3 separate regions of the Homo sapiens genome follow, and regions 2 and 3 are each linked to region 1. The links come from fine-mapping of genetic effects on gene expression. A gene starts in region 1. Each other region holds a variant in brackets. All regions are shown on one strand. Distances are from middle to middle. Region 1 holds the start of PTDSS2 (phosphatidylserine synthase 2). Region 2 holds the start of SIGIRR (single Ig and TIR domain containing). Region 3 overlaps LRRC56 (leucine rich repeat containing 56).

The links. PIP is the estimated chance that this variant, and not a neighbour inherited with it, causes the effect. A credible set is the group of variants that fine-mapping cannot tell apart.
Region 2: its variant is the best candidate, but not a certain one, in a credible set for the expression of PTDSS2 in cerebellar hemisphere (GTEx, PIP 0.88).
Region 3: its variant is the best candidate, but not a certain one, in a credible set for the expression of PTDSS2 in whole blood (TOPMed, PIP 0.55).

Annotation. Positions count from the first base shown.
Region 1 is chr11:446,761-453,563 of GRCh38, forward strand. It overlaps PTDSS2 (phosphatidylserine synthase 2), which reads left to right and starts at 3,519. Exons shown (of 12, transcript NM_030783.3): 1 at 3,519-3,877. The coding sequence starts at 3,696. RefSeq lists enhancers at 1,147-1,286, 3,019-3,705, 3,304-3,583 and silencers at 1,297-1,586, 1,677-1,986, 3,614-3,853, 4,044-4,103, 4,114-4,203.
Region 2 is chr11:410,754-417,556 of GRCh38, forward strand. SIGIRR (single Ig and TIR domain containing) reads right to left here and starts at 4,246. Exons shown (of 10, transcript NM_001135054.2): 1 at 4,070-4,246. RefSeq lists an enhancer at 4,719-5,338 and silencers at 5,859-5,928, 5,989-6,108, 6,139-6,218, 6,429-6,478. The variant A/G (reference allele first, on the strand shown) is at 2,703.
Region 3 is chr11:549,358-553,978 of GRCh38, forward strand. It overlaps LRRC56 (leucine rich repeat containing 56), which reads left to right. Exons shown (of 14, transcript NM_198075.4): 7 at 545-641; 8 at 715-915; 9 at 1,774-1,945; 10 at 2,294-2,470; 11 at 2,546-2,610; 12 at 2,733-2,875; 13 at 3,212-3,345; 14 at 4,606-4,621. Among named protein-coding and RNA genes, the nearest start is that of LMNTD2-AS1, 7.6 kb to the right of the region's middle. RefSeq lists an enhancer at 1-426. The variant G/A (reference allele first, on the strand shown) is at 2,048.

The DNA of each region.
Region 1 (6,803 bases):
TTTTTAGAAAGCATTTCGCCAACATTCACTATTTACCACCATAAATGTGACTCTGGCCAGCTCTGTCCCTGGGTAAGGCCAGAATTGACCATTTTCTTAAAAGTTCCAGCGCCCTGAGGCTTCTGGCAGGCATCTCTGCAGCTGAGGAAGGCTTCTGTCCCGTGCACCCTTCCCCAGGCGGGGGACCCCCAGTTCTGCTGCTCTGGGGCCTCAAAGAACCAAGTCCTCCAAGCTGCTCCACTGCCTCCTCACCAGCCACGGTGCTCCCTGAGCCACAAACCTCCGGCCTCACCCCTGCCCCTCAGGCCCACGTCTTGCAATGGACTCTGCCAGTCCACACATGCCTGGGTGGGGAGGGGTGTGCACTTCTGCAGCTGGGGTGAAGACAGGGACAGGGTAATGTGAGACTCAGATATGAGACGCCAGGTGCAAAACTGCAGGTGGAGAGCTCCCTGTAGAGTGCAGGGGTTCAGGGTAGAGGCTCTGGGGTCTGGAAAGAGCTGGGCGTAGCTGTCACCAACCTTTCTCTGCCTCAGTTTTTTTTTTGTTTGTTTCTTTTTTTTTTTTTTTTTTTTTTTTTGAGACGGAGTCTTGCTCTGTCACCCAGGCTGGAGTGCAGTGGCGTGATCTCAGCTCACTGCAAGCTCTGCCTCCCAGGTTCACACCATTCTCCTGCCTTAGCCTCCCGAGCAGCTGGGACTACAGGCGCCCGCCACCACGCCCGGGTAATTTTTTGTATTTTTAGTAGAGATGGGCTTTCACCGTGTTAGCCAGGATGGTCTCGATCTCCTGACCTTGTGATCCACCCGCCTCGGCCTCCCAATGTGCTGGGATTACAGGCTTGAGCCACCGCGCCCGGCCTTCTCTGCCACAGTTTTTTTGTCTCTAAGCGACAGTCAAAAATAGAACCTAAGGGGGTGTGTTAAGATCACAATAGTTGGCCCGGCGCGGTGGCTCACGCCTGTAATCCCAGCATTTTGGGAGGCCAAGGTGGGTGGATCACCTGAGGTCAGGAGTTCGAGACCAGCCTGGCCAACTTGGTGAAACCCCGTCTCTACTAAAAATACAAAAATTAGCCGGGCGTGATGGCGGGCGCCTTTAATCCCAGCTACTCCGGAGGCTGAGGCAGGAGAATCGCTTGAACCCGAGAGGCGGAGGTTGCAGTGAGCCGAGATCACGCCACTGCACTCCAGGCCTGGGTGACAGAGTGAGACTACGCTTAAAAAAAAAAAAATCACAATAGTTAGCATTTACAAAGCGTTGGGAATTCTACTTGGCACGTGGCCAGAGCTCCGTAGTGATGGGCAACGAACACGTGGTCTGCGCGCCCGGGGCCGCGCGGTCTGGCGGGGCCGCGCGGTCTAGATCACGCTACTCCGGGTCCCAAGGCCCCGCCCTCAGGCCCCGCCCACAGACCATGTCCTCGGCCCCGCCCCTCACGCGCCCTTGGGCCCCGCCCCCGAGCCGACAGGAACGAGCGTCATTGCGAGGCGGCCTCGCGCGCAGCTTCCTTGGGGCCAGGGACCCCAGTGGGGCCGGTACATCTCCCCGCCCCGGCCTCTGCACCCTGGAGGGACGGCAGGAGGGCTCTCTGTGCAGTTTGAGAGAACACCCATACGCAGGAAATGACCCCAACGCCACCGAGAGGGCGCCTGGAATGTGAGCGCCACCTGCTGGGATGGGAAGAGGTCTGGGAGGGGACCTGAAGGATGGTTCACAGGGAACCAGGCCTGTCGGGTGATTGCTGGAAAGATGGCATGGACGGGAGCTGGCTGCTCTGGCCACTCAGCCGACCCCAGCTGGACGCGGCCAGGGCCTGGGGCAGGGGGCCAGGCCTGGGGAGGCCCAACAGCACGCCCCCTGGAGCCAGCGCCTCCCGCACTGCCCAGCCTGTGTGTCAGGAGCTGGGGTGAAGGTCCCATCACAGTCAGGCCCCATCCCTGCTGGGCGTGGCTGTGCAGGAGCCCCGCAAATATGTTTATATATTTAGTATGTGAGTTATATTTCAATAAAGCTGATATGAGATATACTTCACATATCATGCAGTTCACCCATTCAACTCGTTTCGAGTGGACAGTTGAGTGGTTTTTAGGACATTCACAGATAGGAGCTGAGGTCAATATTACAGCACTTTCATCGCCCCGAAAGAAACCTGCTACCCTTTGTAGTCGCTCCTTATTACCCCTTCCCCAGCCCCCGGTGAAAACTCATCTAATTTCTGTCTTCATAGATTTGCATTTCCTGGACATTTCATACAAATGGATCACATAATGCGTAGTCTCCTGTGACTGGCTTCTTTCACCTAGCATTTTTTTTTTTTTTTTTGAGACGGAGTCTCGCTCTGTCGCCCAGGATGGAGTGCAGTGGCACAATCTCGGCTCACTGCAACCTCCACCTCCCGGATTTAAGGGATTCTCCCACCTCAGCCTCCCGAGTAGCTAGGATTACAAGCGCCCGCCACAATGCCAGGGCAATTTTTGTATTTTTAGTAAAGATGGGGTGTCACCACTTTGCCTAGGCTGGTCTCGAACTCCTGACCTCAAGTCATCCGCCCGCCTTGGCCTCCCAAAGTGCTGGGATGACAGGCGTGCGCCGCCGCGCCCGGCCTGCCTAGCATAATGTTTTCAAGGTCCAGCTGTGCTGTAGCATGCGCATGCTTCGCTCCTCTATGGCTAATAACATGCCGCTATTATCAAAATGCTGCAACTAGGAGCGCTAGTGTGTAAATTTGGCGTGGACACTTGTTTCCAGGTTTGAGGAGCTGCCACATTGCTTTTCAGAGTGGCTCAGGAGCTAATTTTTTTGCAGGGTACCATGTCAACAATTTGGGTCAACTAAAATCAGCGTGTCCGCACCATTTTCGCCCGCCCAATTTCACGCGATCCTGCGAAAGAATGACCCAGACCGGTCCGGGCGCGGTGGCTCGCGCCTGTAATCCCAGCACTTTGGGAGGCCGAGGCGGCAGATCACAAGGTCAGGAGTTCGAGATTGGCCTGGCCAACATAGTGAAACCCCGTCTCTACTAAAAATACAAAAATTAGCCGGGCGTGATGGCGGCCGCCTGTAATCCCAGCTACTCGGGAAGCTTGAGACAGAAGAATCGTTTGAATCCGAGAGGCGGAGGTTGCAGTGAGCCGGGATCGCGCCATTGCACTCCAGCTCGGGCGGCAGTGCGAGACTCCGTCTCAAAAAGGAATGACCCGGGTCGCATGGGGTGAAGGGTCGGGAAGCGCCCCAAAAGGAGAACGGGGCTGGGCTCCGGGATCCGTCGGCGAGGAAGGGGCGAAGGGGTGGAGGGACTCGGGCCAGGCCGCCGGGGATGTCTGTGGTTACCTCCAAGCTCTGGAGGCCTTGGCGAGACCCGCGCCATCCGCAGCTTGGTTCCTGCGACCTCAGCCGCAGGGCGGTCCGGCTCCGGTTTCCCAGCAACCAGGCGTCATCCTTCCCAGCAAGCACTGCGTCCAACCCGCGACGTCGGACCACAAGGCCCAGCATGCCCCGCGCGGACTACAAGCCCCACAATGCACCGCACACCCTTTACTGGCCGGCCCCGCGCTGCTCTCCTAAGACCCCGCGGGCCAGCGCCGCGACCCCTTCCCAGCGCTCCTCGCGCTGTGTGCGGCGCGTCCTCTCGCCGGTGACCCGGTGTGCGTGGGGTCGAGGCGCCGGGCGGAGTGGCTCCGGGCCGAAACGCCATGCGGAGGGGCGAGCGCAGGGACGCCGGAGGTCCGCGGCCCGAGTCCCCGGTGCCCGCGGGCAGGGCCTCGCTGGAGGAGCCGCCTGACGGGCCGTCTGCCGGCCAAGCCACCGGGCCGGGCGAGGGCCGCCGCAGCACCGAGTCCGAGGTCTACGACGACGGCACCAACACCTTCTTCTGGTGAGGGCAGTGGGCGGCCGCGGGGCGGCGAGGGTGCCCTCGACCTGGGGGTTCCGGCACCGCTGGCCTGGGGGTCCCCGGCAGCGCCCTCTCGCCGTCTTGGAGTCCAGGACTGTGGCCGGGGGTTTGAGGGTGTGGCAGCACCGCCCCCCGGGTCCCGGGGAGCGGCCGGACCGAGCTCCCGACGCCGGGTCGGGCGGAGGGCGGCGCTGTAGGTGGGGGAGACCCTGGGCAGACCCTCCCTGCGGCCGCTTTGCGTCTCTCTCGCCGCCCTCCCCACCCCTGCCCGCCTTGGCTCTGACCGCGCGGTTCTGCGATCCAGACCCCTTCCCCGCCACCCGCCTCCAGCGTCACCCCAGAAACGCTTTCTCTGTCCTGCTGTCGAAGCTTCACCTGTGTCCCCCGTCATTCTGCCTGTGGTTGCTCCTCAGTGCTTGCGGCTGCACGAAATCATCTTGTGTGTCGCGCCCGACCCCACGTGGCGATCGTGTTGATTAGCAGAGTGTTGTGCGTGCTTCAGGAATGTAGTCGGTGTTCGTCGAATCCAGGCTCTGTTTCTCTCCTCAGTTGCCCCTAGCGGGGCCAGCGCCTCCTCCCTGCACAACTCAGCCCTAGCTACACCTTGGGGTCCCCCTGTCCGCCACTCTGCCTTTAATGGGGGTGGAAAAGGAAGAGGCCCCCGGGAGCAGCTGGAGTGTGGCACTCTGTGTCCAGACAGGCTCCAGGTGCCGCTCCTACTCCCGACAGCTGCGACCCTGGGCTGGCCCTTTGCCGATGCTCCTCTGTGAGAAGGATCAAGCCGTCGACCTGAAAGCAGGCTTCGTGAGAGGAGGGTTTGGCTCTTCTTGACTGCAAGGTGCCCAGTTCCCATCCTGTGGAAGGCCCGGGGGCACAGGGGCAGTAGAGGTGGGGTCAGCCCCAGGAAAACGTGTGGGAGACAGGCGCCTGCGGCCAGCAGTGGAAGGAAGGCTTTATGGACGCTTCCAAGAGAACCATGCTGTGGGATGGTCGGAGAGCAAATCTGAGGGGCGAGGAGGGCCTGATGGAGGAGTAAGGGACTTGTCAGGGGAAGGCGCCACCACAGACAGGGACTTAACCGGTCCTGGCCTGTCACCGCAGCCGAAGCTCTGGAGAGAGACTGTCCAAGTGGTGGGAAAGCAGGTTAGGGTGGAGGAGGCCCCACGCAGGGTCTTCCGTGAGGTGTGGGCAGCTGCTGTTGCAGGGAGGGCATCCGAGCTCTCCTTTGGGGAGATGAGTGTACCGGGTGGCTGCGGGGCCCTCGGGAGGGAGAGGAGATGGGGTGCCTGCCACGTGGACCCTCTGGCTTCCGGGCCCTGTGGACATCAGGCCTCTCCATCAGGTGCCCTGCCACACCCCTTCAGGCTGTCCTCCCGCAGCACAGCTGGGGACCACCGGAGTCTCTGAGGTCCTGGAGCAAGGAGACCAGACTGGCTCTTCTGAGGTCCCGGAGCAAGAAGACCAGACGGGCTCCTCTGACATCCCGGAGCAAGGAGAACAGACGGGCTCCTCTGAGGTCCCGGAGCGAGGAGACCAGACTGGCTCTTCTTGTTTCTCATTTGGCCGTTCAGCACATTGTGGGGACCCCTACTGCCTGTCAGTTACCGTTCTACGGGACATAGCAGAGAACTAAACAAGAAGCTTAGATTCTGGTGCAGGCATGGAACTTCAGAAGGCTCAAAATGTGCTGGCTGGGTGCTGAGTGTGGCAGGAGCCAGGGGGCACATGCAAGCCTGCGCAGCCCACCCAGTACCAGGGAAGCAGGAGCAGCAGCCCAAAGGTAGGAGGGGGCCGGTCTCTTTAGAAGCCCAGACCAGTGGTCCCTGCCCACAAGGGGTGTTTGGGACACAGACGGCTGGGCGCAGCAGAGCTTGCCTGTCAGGAGGCCAAGGGGGTCAGGAGGGCTCTCCAGGAGCGGGTGCAGCGGGGCTGGCTGGTCCAGGTACCTCCTTCCTGGGTCTTCTGGGTGGGTGGCTCTGGCTCTGGCTTTCCCCTCGACCCTGTCCCTGTAGAGACGCATGGGGCAGGTTCTTGCTGTGCCTCCTCCCTTCCCTGTGCAGAGGAAGGAGCTTCACGCTTCTGGGTGGCAGGTAACTCAATGCCTGCCTGGTGAGAATTCATTACCTGCAGAGCCTCACACTGACCTCCTGAGTCCACCTGCACTGACTTGCTGTGCTGGCATTTTTTTAACTCTAATTTTGTGTTTTAGAGAGTTTTACTTTTTATTTTTTATTCATTTTTATTTATTTATTTATTTTTAATAGAGGGTCCCCCTGTGTTGCCCAGGCTGGTCTTCAACTCCTGGCCTCAAGTGATCCTTCCGCCTCAGCCTCCCAGATTGCTGAGATTACAGGCATGCACCACCACATCCAGCCAGGGCGTTCATTTTCAAGGATGGGTGCACTTCCTCGGGCCAGTGACGGCGGCCATGTGTGAATTTTGTTTCTCTGTGACTGCTTGTCAGCCATAGGGATAGGGCGTGCGGTTCGATTCAGGGCTTGACTGGCCCTGGGAGCACGAGGCTGAGCTCTCCTTCTCTGGATTCATTCAGGGTAGCAAGGACAATTATGGGGAACATCCAGAGGAAAACGTTTAGATCCACAGACTCCGAGAAGCCCTGTGCGAAGATGTGGCAGCTCATGCGGTCTGGAAATTGTTTGGGAGAACACTTGGGGACCCCTTACCCTGGCGAGGTGCCTGTGAACGTTGCCGCCTGTCTGTGGGAGACGCTGAAGCAGCTTCGGATGACCACACTTGCTAACCAGTTCCCGAGCTGGGGGCCACTGTGATGTTCTGAGAGTTTTTATTGTATGCTTGTGTCTTGGAATGGGGTGCCTCAAATGAGCCTTCTCAGTGACCTGAGGACTTTATGTGTGAGGTGACCTCTGACCTTCAGATACCCCAGGTT
Region 2 (6,803 bases), 36 kb before region 1:
CAGCTCTGACCATGTCTGGATACAGTCGGGGGGGGGTGCCCAGCTCTGAACATGTCTGGATGCAGTCGGGGAGGGGGGTGCCCAGCTCTGACCATGTCTGGATACAGTCGGCGGGGGTGCCCAGCTCTGACCATGTCTGGATACAGTCGGGGAGGGGGGTGCCCAGCTCTGACCATGTCTGGATACAGTCGGCGGGGGTGCCCAGCTCTGACCATGTCTGGATGCAGTCGGGGAGGGGGGTGCCCAGCTCTGACCATGTCTGAATGCAGTCGGGGAGGGGGGTGCCCAGCTCTGACCATGTCTGGATGCAGTCGGGGGGTGCCCAGCTCTGACCATGTCTGGATGCAGTCGGGCGGGGGGGGTGCTCAGCTCTGACCATGTCTGGATGCAGTCGGGGAGGGGGGTGCCCAGCTCTGACCATGTCTGGATACAGTCGGGGGGGGGGGTGCCCAGCTCTGAACATGTCTGGATACAGTCGGGGAGGGGTGCTCAGCTCTGACCATGTCTGGATACAGTCGGGGGGGGGGGGTGCCCAGCTCTGACCATGTCTGGATACAGTCGGGGAGGGGTGCCCAGCTCTGACCATGTCTGGATGCAGTCGGGGGGTGCCCAGCTCTGACCATGTCTGGATACAGTCGGCGGGGGTGCCCAGCTCTGACCATGTCTGGATACAGTCGGGGAGGGGGGTGCCCAGCTCTGACCATGTCTGGATACAGTCGGGGAGGGGTGCCCAGCTCTGACCATGTCTGGATGCAGTCGGGGAGGGGGGTGCCCAGCTCTGACCATGTCTGGATGCAGTCGGGGAGGGGGGTGCCCAGCTCTGACCATGTCTGGATACAGTCGGCGGGGGGTGCCCAGCTCTGACCATGTCTGGATGCAGTCGGGGGGTGCCCAGCTCTGACCATGTCTGGATACAGTCGGTGGGGGTTGCCCAGCTCTGACCATGTCTGGATACAGTCGGTGGGGGGGGGGGGTGCCCAGCTCTGACCATGTCTGGATGCAGTCGGGGAGGGGTGCTCAGCTCTGACCATGTCTGGATGCAGTCGGGGGGTGCCCAGCTCTGACCATGTCTGGATACAGTCGGGCGGGGGGGGGGCTCAGCTCTGACCATGTCTGGATACAGTCGGGGAGGGGGGTGCCCAGCTCTGACCATGTCTGGATACAGTCGGGGGGGGGGGGTGCTCAGCTCTGACCATGTCTGGATGCAGTCGGGGAGGGGGGTGCCCAGCTCTGACCATGTCTGGATACAGTGGGGGGGGGGGGTGCCCAGCTCTGACCATGTCTGGATGCAGTCGGGGGGGGTGCCCAGCTCTGACCATGTCTGGATGCAGTCGGGGGAGGTGCCCAGCTCTGACCATGTCTGGATACAGTCGGGGGGAGGTGCCCAGCTCTGACCATGTCTGGATACAGTCGGGGGGGGGTGCCCAGCTCTGACCATGTCTGGATACAGTCGGGGAGGGGTGCCCAGCTCTGACCATGTCTGGATGCAGTCGGGGGGTGCCCAGCTCTGACCATGTCTGGATACAGTCGGGGGGGGGGTGCCCAACTCTGACCATGTCTGGATGCAGTCGGCGGGGGTGCCCAGCTCTGACCATGTCTGAATGCAGTCGGGGAGGGGGGTGCCCAGCTCTGACCATGTCTGGATGCAGTCGGGGGGTGCCCAGCTCTGACCATGTCTGGATACAGTCGGGCGGGGGGGGGTGCTCAGCTCTGACCATGTCTGGATGCAGTCGGGGGGTGCCCAGCTCTGACCATGTCTGGATACAGTCGGGGGGGGGTGCCCAGCTCTGACCATGTCTGGATACAGTCGGGGGGGGGTGCCCAGCTCTGAACATGTCTGGATACAGTCGGGGGGGGGTGCCCAGCTCTGAACATGTCTGGATACAGTCGGGGAGGGGTGCTCAGCTCTGACCATGTCTGGATACAGTCGGGGGGGGGGGGTGCCCAGCTCTAACCATGTCTGGATGCAGTCGAGGGGGGGTGCCCAGCTCTGGCCCACGTCTGGTTACAGTCAGGAGTGCACGTGAGCACAGACACCTCGAAACACCTCGGGAAACACCTCGGGAACCCTCAGCTTAGCCTCGCCCTGCGGTTGTGAGGCCGGAGGGTGAACAGCGCCCGGTGGGGATGGAGGTCTCGGGTCCCATGTCCTTTCCCAGCCCGTAGCAGCAGCCACACACACCTCAAGTCTCCCAAAGCTCCTCAGTGAGGTGGCTGCAGGGAGAAGCCCAGAGCCTCTTCCTTGGCAGCCCAGGGCCCCAGGGGCCTCTCCTCACTGGATGCCACAGGGTCACCCTGTTTATCCAACAGGCACTGACTGTCTACTCCCCTCCCTGCTGCAGGGACACAGTGGAAGTGGGGATGTGGGGATCAAGCCTAAGTTTCTGCACCCCAGCTCCCTCAGGATTCCTCCCCGCTAAGGCCCCAGAGGCAGTGGCAGGGACAGTCCTCTTAGCCTGCCACCTATTCCCTCTCCATGGGTGAAGCACAGCCAGAGGCCCCAGGTTTGACTGTTTGGCAGTTTCCTCGGGAACCGATACAGCATGAGGCACACACCCATGGGGGATGGCCAGGGGGTCCTTGAAGAAGTCCTTTGCGGTGGAGGACACTCCAAGGAAAGTCCTTGACCCAGGGGAACCACCCACTGAGGGTCCTTAAAGCACACACTTCCCAGGAAACCAACCCCTCACAGCAAGCCCGGG[A/G]GGTCACACCGCCAGCCCAGCAGAACCCCTGGCATCTCCTGCAGTGCTTCCGTGACCGCCCCAAGCTCAGACCTCAAAGTCCTCCCTCCAAAAGCAGCCTCAGAGCCTTCTGGAAGTCAAGGGCAGACTGCCAGGATACGAGCACAGCAAGAAAGCAGGTGCCCTCCCCTGCAAACCCTCCTCTGCACCCTCTCCGCTGCCTGCCTCTCCTTGCACCCTCTCCCCTGCACCCTCTCCCTGCAAACCCTCCCCTGCACCCTCTTCCCGCACCCTCTCCCCTGCTCCCTCTCCCCTACGCACCTTCCCCTGCACCCTCTCCTCTGCCTGCCTCCCCCTGCACGCTCTCCACTCCCCACCTTCCCCTGCCCACCTTCCCCTGCACCCTCTCCCCTGAACCCTCTCCTCTGCCTGCCTCCCCCTGCACCCTCTCCCCTCCCCACCTTCCCCTGCACCCTCTCTTCTGCCTGCCTCCTCCTGCACCTTCTCTCCTCCCTACCTTTCCCTGTACTCTCGTCTGCCTACCTTCCCCTGCACCCTCTCCCCTCCCCACCTTTCCCTGCACCCTCTCCCCTGCACACCTTCCCCTGCACTCTCTCCTCTGCCTACCTTCCCCTGCACCCTCTCCCTCCCCACCTTTCCCTGCACACCTTCCCCTGCACCCTCTCCTCTGCCTACCTTCCCCTGCACCCTCTCCCCTCCCCACCTTTCCCTGCACCCTCTCCCCTGCACACCTTCCCCTGCACCCTCTCCTCTGCCTACCTTCCCCTGCACCCTCTCCCCTCCCCACCTTTCCCTGCACACCTTCCCCTGCACCCTCTCCCCTGCACCCTCTCCTCTGCCTACCTTCCCCTGCACCCTCTCCCCTCCCCACCTTTCCCTGCACCCTCTCCCCTGCACACCTTTCCTTGTACCCCCTCCCCTCCCTAACTTCCCCTGCACCCTCTCCTCTGCCCCTCCTCCCCTGCACACATCACATACACACAGCCCTCTGGCCCATGTGCACCTGCACAGAGCTTCAGTCTCAGCCCGTGTGCACACTTGCACCTCCTACACAGCACACTTCCTACCACACACACCTCCCATTACCACTGCACACAGCTTAGGCTGCAGACCCCTCACACAACTGTTGAGTATATACAACACCCATTGCAACGCTTGTCACAGAGCCTAGGACCACAGGCACCCCACAGCACACACACTGCACCTGACACCCACCCTTGGCCGCTGATGCGACACAGCCTCCTGCTGCCCCTCGCTCTGTCTCACACACACATGCACACACATGCATATGGGTCTTGGGCGCCGTGGGCCTCCTCTCAGCCAGGCCCTGACACAGGCTCACTCAGAGCAGCGGGGAAGGCAGTCACCTGGTTCCAGTTCTTTCCTCCGGGGGGCAAATGTTGGTCATTGGTGCGCCTTTGGGAGCAAACTCTCCCCTTCGCTGGGCCCCAGGGAGTGTCCACAGCACCAAGGCTGCTATGGATGCATCGCCAAGCGCGGTGGGGACCTGGCTTGTGTCTTTGTGTATTTTGATCAGAACTTTCCCTGTAGCTTCCTGGCCTTGCAGTCACATCCTCTCCTAACCCTAAACCCCACCCAGGCACCCACCCCTTCCCTAGGCGGGCGGGAGGACGGGCAGTTGGTGGTTCTCACCCCGCCTGCCCCGGCTCTTCCTGTAGCTCTGAGTCAAGCGGCTCCTTCCTCTGGAGCCCGCCCCAACCCACCCAGGCACGGCACTTTCCTCTGTGCAGCGTGTGTGTGTGTGTGTGTGTGTGTGTGTGTGTGTGTGTGTGTGCAGTGTGTCTGCGTGTGTGCAATGTGTGTGCAGTATGTGCGTGTGCGTGCGTTTGTGTGTGTGCGTGTGTGTTGTGGGGTGGGGGGTGCTCAAAGGGGCAGGTTCCAGGGGTAATGCATGGGGGGTCCTCCAGCCAGGAGACCCCCGCCAGGGCCACCCTGCACACATACAAGGAGGACCGGGGACCGCGCGGCATGCCTTCCAGACGCTACTAGAGCTCACACTCAGGAGCCAAGGGGCCGGTTTGCTCCCCCATGTGTCTTTGACCTCTGACCCCGGGGAACAGGGCCTTCAGAAACTCCCGGTCAACAATGGGGCTCCAGCAGAACTCTTCCGCCCTCTCCCCGTCCCTCTCCCAGACATAGCTCCCCCGATGGGTGAGCAGTTACAAGGGACTATGGCATCTTGTGGACCTTCCCTTCAGGCTGGGGTGGGAGGGCAGCGCCCCCTTTTCCAAATAAGGAGCAAACACAGGTGGCCGAGGCTCCTGGCTCAGAGCAGATGAGGGGCAGATGGCATCTCCTGTTGTCACCAAACTGACACTCCCCAGGTTGACCTGGGACTGGGGACCCAGTGACCGGTGGCTGGTATTGCCCACAGAATCAGACAAGGGTCTCCTTTGGACCCTGGCCCTGCCCTCAGCCACATGGGGGCAGGGCTTCATTGTGGAGGGCTGCCATCCAGCCTCCCGGCCCTGGCTGAGCACCCTCTCAGCAGCAGGCTTTCTACAGGTACTTGTCTGACTGAGTCCCAGCCCTGCTAGGACCTTCCTTTGTCCCGGTACTCAGCCTTGGGTGATGGTGGGCCTTGGGCTCAGGGTCCCAAAGACAGCACCCCTTCCCCCACAGAGCCTGGTACCAGCCCCTCCTTGAAGTGGGTCCTTGGAAGCCCCTCAAGAAGGTTCTCCCCACACTGCAGGTCAGGAAGCAGGCACAGCAGGGCCCAGGGCACCCCCGCAGGAAGCAGGAGCAGGGCCTCCAGCACAGGCCCTGGGGTCAGCCGCCAACTGTGAAGCCCCGGCTCGGCGGCTGCTCTGTGCACCCGGTCTCAGCGTCACCATCTCTCAGGGCTGGCTTGGCACCCTCTCCTTCCCTCTCTCTGCTAACGTCCTGCACCCCCGAGCCCCCAGGTCCACCGTCCAGGGTGAGCATGAACACCCACAAAGTCTCCGACCCTCGCCCGCACAGCTCTTCCGAGGCGCCCAGAATCTCAGTCCAAGCCTGGCCCTGGTCGCCTCGCACTGCCCACCGCACTCTGCTGGGCACCTTGAGGTTCTTAGAAAGCGCCAGCTCCTCCCGCCCTCAGACCCAGCCAGCGTCCTCGGTCCGCGGCCGCCCCTGCCCGGTGGGTTCGACGCTCAGCACCCAGCACCCTGCGGGCGACTCCCGCTCAGCTCGGACGCGCCGCCCCTCCGCTCCCCGTGCGCGCTGGGCCCCCAGCGCCTGTCCTGAAGCAGGAACGTGGGTAAAAGGCTGCGGCCCCGCAGGCCGAGGGGCTCTGGTTCGCTCCCCTACCCCGCGCCCACCTGCGCCCTGGGCGCCCTCCAAGTGAGGAGGGCGGAGAACGAGGACGCGCGCGGGAGGCGGGCACGGGGGTGCGGCTCGGGGCGCTCGGCCGGGGCAGAGGCGCGCGGATGGCGGAAGCTCCACCCGGCGCCGGGCGAGCTCGGGCCCCAGCCTGACTCTTGGTCCGCCCTCGGCGCCTCAGGAAGCCTCGAGCTGGGATCCAGGCTTGGGCGACCGAGGTGGGATCCCTGCGCGCCTCGGCGCTCCTAGCCCCGCTCTGTTCTGCGCGAGGGTCACCAAAAAGCCGCTGACCACGTCGGGCAGAGGAAAGGGTGGCCCCCGCCCCCTTCGCCCACTTTCCTCCCTTCCCCCAGCCCTGGAAAGGGCCAGGACGCGGGCGAGCTCGGGCTTCCGGGCGACGCGGGAACCTCCCCGGCCCCGAGCCATTTCCTGAGAGACCGCGCCCAGGGACAAGCAGCGCCCCGGGCCCCGACTCCAGGCCTGCAGCGGCTCTGGGAGGACTGCGACCTCCACTCACCTTCGCGGGTCTGATGGCGACCGCCACTCACCTGCTGCCAGGACCTGGGGCTCGCGCCGGGCGGGGGCGGGGCAGCTCACCTGAGCCAGGTGCGCAGCGGCAACAGCCCCGGCGGCGGCGTAGCCCCGGCAGCGGCAGCAGGTGCGGCCCCGCCCCGCAGTCAGGGCGGGGGCGGACCCCAGCGTCCCGCTCTGCGCCCAAGGCTGGCGCTGGAGGCTGCGCTGCTGCCCGGGAGCCGCTGCCGCACGGGCCTGGGGCCAGTG
Region 3 (4,621 bases), 100 kb after region 1:
ACAGTGGGAACAGGGTGGGCCCGGCAGGAAGCAACCTGTCCCTGCACACATCAAGCCGCCCTGACCCACCGCCACCTCCAGCAGCTGGTCCCCACAAAAGCTGCCAGCTCAGCACGGGGTCAGCCTCCAGCGAAGCCCCCCACATCGGTGTCCAGGGGCTCAGGCTCCCAGGCAGCACTCCAGACCCTTACTCCAAATTCGAGTGCCCCAAACGCTACTGAGGAGACAATTAGAAAGAGAAAGGTGATGCCTGCAGCCTGCCAGGGAGGGGACTGAGCCACCCACTATGAGGGCAGCGCCTTGGGCACAGCTGAGCCACCGGTCACGAGGGCAGCTCCCCAAGCCAGGCCCTCCAGGGCTTGGAGAAGGTGGGGGACACTGTACCCACACCAGAGCCAGAAGGCCAAGGCAGAGAGCCCCTTCCTCAGTCTAGAGGCCACCATAGGTGGTCACACCTGCCCCTACCCCTGAAGACAGCCAAAGGCAGGTGGTGGCTGAGCACAGGGCTGGGCACATGTTGACCACCAAACCCTGCCTTCTGCAGGGACTTGGGCACGTCTCTGGGCCACCTGCAGGTGCTGTGGCTGGCTCGCTGTGGCCTCGCTGACCTGGATGGCATCGCCTCTTTGCCAGCACTTAAGGTGAGTCTGGGCACCCTGGGCTGGGGAGGCCTGGGCTGGGCCGGGCCCTGGCTCAGAGCCCCGCGCTGCCCAGGAACTCTACGCCTCCTACAACAACATCTCGGACCTGAGCCCACTGTGCCTGCTGGAACAATTGGAGGTGCTGGACCTGGAGGGCAACAGCGTGGAGGACCTGGGGCAGGTGCGCTACTTGCAGCTGTGCCCACGCCTGGCCATGCTCACCCTGGAGGGCAACCTGGTGTGCCTACAGCCGGCCCCTGGCCCCACCAACAAGGTGCGTGTCCCGGGCACCCGGCCAGCATGTGCATGGCCAGGAGAGGCTCCCTGTGGCTCCAGCCCCGGGGCCCCTCCTCTGGCCAGGTACTTCTGTGCCCACCCGCACCCTATGGCCTGCTCACCATGAGTTCACCTCCTCTGTCACTGGAAGTCTGACGGCTCCCAGGACACCCTCCTGGACCAGCCCCGCTAGATCCCACAGGGTCACCTGCACACACGCCATGTCCCTTAACCCACATATGCACCTGTGAGGTCCACACATAAGCCACGTGGAAACACAAAGAACCACGTGTACACGGATGTGTGCACACACACACCTGTGTACGCCCTGTCCAGAGCCACCTCCAGCCCCACAGGCCCCACAGACCACCCTATGCAGTATCTCGGGGCTCTGCGTGCCCTGCTCAGAGCTGGCACACCTGTGCGTGCAGGCCCTGGCGTAGCTCACAGACCCTACACAGGGCACATCTGCCCTGAGCTCACAGTGCTAGCCTCATTAGCTGCTGCTTGGTGCTGCCACATGCTGAGGTCAGCGTCTACCAGTGCCCAGTAGCTACTGCTCCGTGGGCCAGAGCCCTGAGCTGAGGGCAGTTCCATGGGCCAGAGGGCATCCCTGGACCCGGCCTTGGGTCTGGAGAGTGGGGTCCTACATCCTGAGCAGGTGAGAGCCCAGTCCCTCAGTCCCTGGGGTGTGAGAGTGACCCAAGCCCACCCCTGCAGGGTAGGCAGCATCCCCACCTCTGGGCCCCTGCCCTGCCCCACGGTGGGTCTGGGAAAGGGAGCCAGGGAAAGAGCTGGCCGGAAGGAAACACTGGACCCAGACCTGCCCTCCCTCCCCCTCCCCCTCCCCCTGCAGGTGCCCAGGGGCTACAACTACAGGGCAGAGGTGAGGAAGCTCATTCCCCAGCTGCAGGTCCTGGACGAAGTGCCGGCCGCACACACAGGCCCACCGGCCCCCCCGCGGCTGAGCCAGGACTGGCTTGCGGTGAAGGAGGCCATCAAGAAGGGCAACGGCCTTCCCCCGCTGGGTACGGCAGCTGCGCCCGGAGGACCCACTGCTGAGCCCCAGCTCCCCCCAGGAAGAGGCCCCCACCCCAGGCTTCTCAGAAACGGATAGCCACATCTCATGC[G/A]CTTCTCCAGCCTTGACCCCGGTCCCCAGAGCTGTGCACACCCGGCCCCAGGCCAGGACACTGTCTCTGAGCAGCCCACAGAGGGAGAGGAAGGTCTGAAGATGAGGGCCTCTCTAGAAGGCTGCAGCGTGAGAGGCCAGCCTCAGGCCATGCAGCATGGGGATTGGGGCCCCTGGTCTGTGGACAGAGTCTGGGGGGCGCTCTCAGGCTGGGCCTTGGTGACCTCTGCTTCTGAACCTCGGGCAGACTGTCCCCGTGGAGCCCCCATCCGGAGACTTGACCCCGAGCTGTCCCTGCCTGAGACGCAGTCCCGGGCCTCCAGGCCCTGGCCCTTCTCCCTGCTGGTCCGTGGGGGCCCCCTGCCTGAAGGCCTGCTTTCTGAGGACCTGGCCCCAGAAGATAACACCAGCAGCCTCACCCATGGTAACTGACTTGCCTCAAAGCTGACCCTGCAGCCCCTCGGCCCCGAACCAGGCCCAGCCATGCTGTCTCTTGCAGGTGCTGGCCAAGTCCTCTGTGGGAACCCCACCAAGGGCCTGCGGGAGCGTAGGCACCAGTGCCAGGTACAGCCCACAGGGACCAGCCCCCCACGAGAACCAGTGTCCAGGGTTGCGGCCCTGACAGTGCCCTGCCCTGCCGCCATTCCAGGGCCAGAATCCCTAAAGCAGTCCCTTTTCCTCCCCAGGCCAGGGAGCCCCCCGAGCAGCTGCCCCAACACAGGCCAGGAGATCCGGCCGCCAGCACTTCCACCCCAGAGCCTGACCCTGCAGACAGCTCTGACTTCCTGGCCTTGGCTGGGCTCAGGGCCTGGAGGGAACATGGCGTGCGGTGGGTGTCCCTCCAGCTCTTCCACTGGGTGTGTCCTGTCCCGTGGGGAAATCAGGGCTGGGGCTACCTTGGCTGAGTCATCCCCAGTCCCAAGGCTCGTGGACCATCCCTGCATGTCCTGTCCCGTGGGGGGATCAGGGCTGGGGCTACCTTGGCTGAGTCATCGCTGGTCCCAAGGCTCGTGGACCATCCCTGTGTGTCCTGTCCCGTGGGGGGATCAGGGCTGGGGCTACCTTGGCTGAGTCATCCCCAGTCCCAAGGCTCATGGACCATCCCTATGTGTCCTGTCCCGTGGGGGGATCAGGGCTGGAGCTTCTCCTCCTCTCCCCACCCTAGCCCCCTCCCCTATAGGCACCCGGAGTCCCAACAGGAAGGGGCTGTAGCCCCCTGGGGCCCACGGAGGGTCCCTGAAGAGCAAGTGCACCAGGCAGAGCCCAAGACTCCCTCCAGCCCCCCAAGCCTGGCCTCAGGTACTGAGCCTGCCCGCCTGCCCCCCAGTGCCTGGGAGTGACCAACACCCCACTTCTATAGGGGGGCCCTTACCCCAGATCAGATGTGTCAACCTGGCCCTGCTTCCTCAGCCATGCTCTGAGAGGGACTGTAACAGGGAGGCCCCCTTCTGGGGGTGGGGGGCTCACGACCAAGGGAGGCCCAACCCAAGTCCTCTCCCAAGCCACGGTCCAATCCCTGTGACCTTGTGTGCCACCCGGGCTGGACGAAAGAGAGGCGTTCCACAAAAGGGGGTATGAACAGAGTCCAGAGGAGTCGGGACAGAAAGAAGGAGCCACCCCAGGGCACCAGCAGGCAGAACATGGCCACTGGGCAGCTTTCAGGGACACAGGCATGAGTCCGGGGGCTGGGAGGAAAGGCGGCCAGCAGCCCCACTGGGAGACCAAGGCAGGAGGGTGCTGCCGCTTCACCCTGAAGATGGCACGCGCACTTGGGGACATAGAATTAAGCCATGCAGTGCCCTTTACGAAGGACACTGACTTCAGTGTGATCACAGCTGCAAAGCAGAGAGGACCCTCCCTCAGCGGGCAGGCAGGCCGGGCAGGGGGCAGTGTAAGCAGGGGCGACCCCACGGTGGGCAGCTGACCCTCCTCTGTGCAGGAGCCTGGTTAAGGGGGCTGGGATGGGCAGGGAACAGGGCAGGCCAAGCCTCTGCTCTTCCATATGGTGGTGGGTGTCTGTGGAGGGGGCAGACAGAGGGGTCAACAGCTGGTTACCTAGTGGCCGTGACCTGCAGGGGTGGAGGGAGGGCAGGCAGGGCGGCCAGGAGGAGGGGAGCTGCAGTGGCCTCAGGGCAGGGTCAGGACAAAGGCATGCCAGGGCTCCAGACACCGGTGGAGGCGGGTGCTGGGGGACCCAAGGCTTGGGAACCGGCCCGGGGCGGTCAGCCAGTGAACAGGCTCTCAGGGTCAGGACACAGATGACCGAGGGTCAGAGCCAGGCCTTGTGGTCTCCTTCTCAGGGACAGGACACAGAGGACCCAGGGCCAGAACCAGGCTTCGTGGCCTCCTTGCCTGCCCCAGAGGTGGGCCCGCCCATGCGAGTCAGGGGTCACAGGGCTGGGAACACAGAAAGTGGGGTGCAGGGGTGCTGCTGCCTGTGGACCCCCAAGGACCACTGCCTCGGGGCTGCAGGGCCACGGGTGGGCTGTGGCCTCCCCACCGGGTGACTCCCTTCCCTGACAGCCTTTCTGACGTCCCATCACTCTGCTTGCTTTCTAGAGCCCTCCGGGACCTC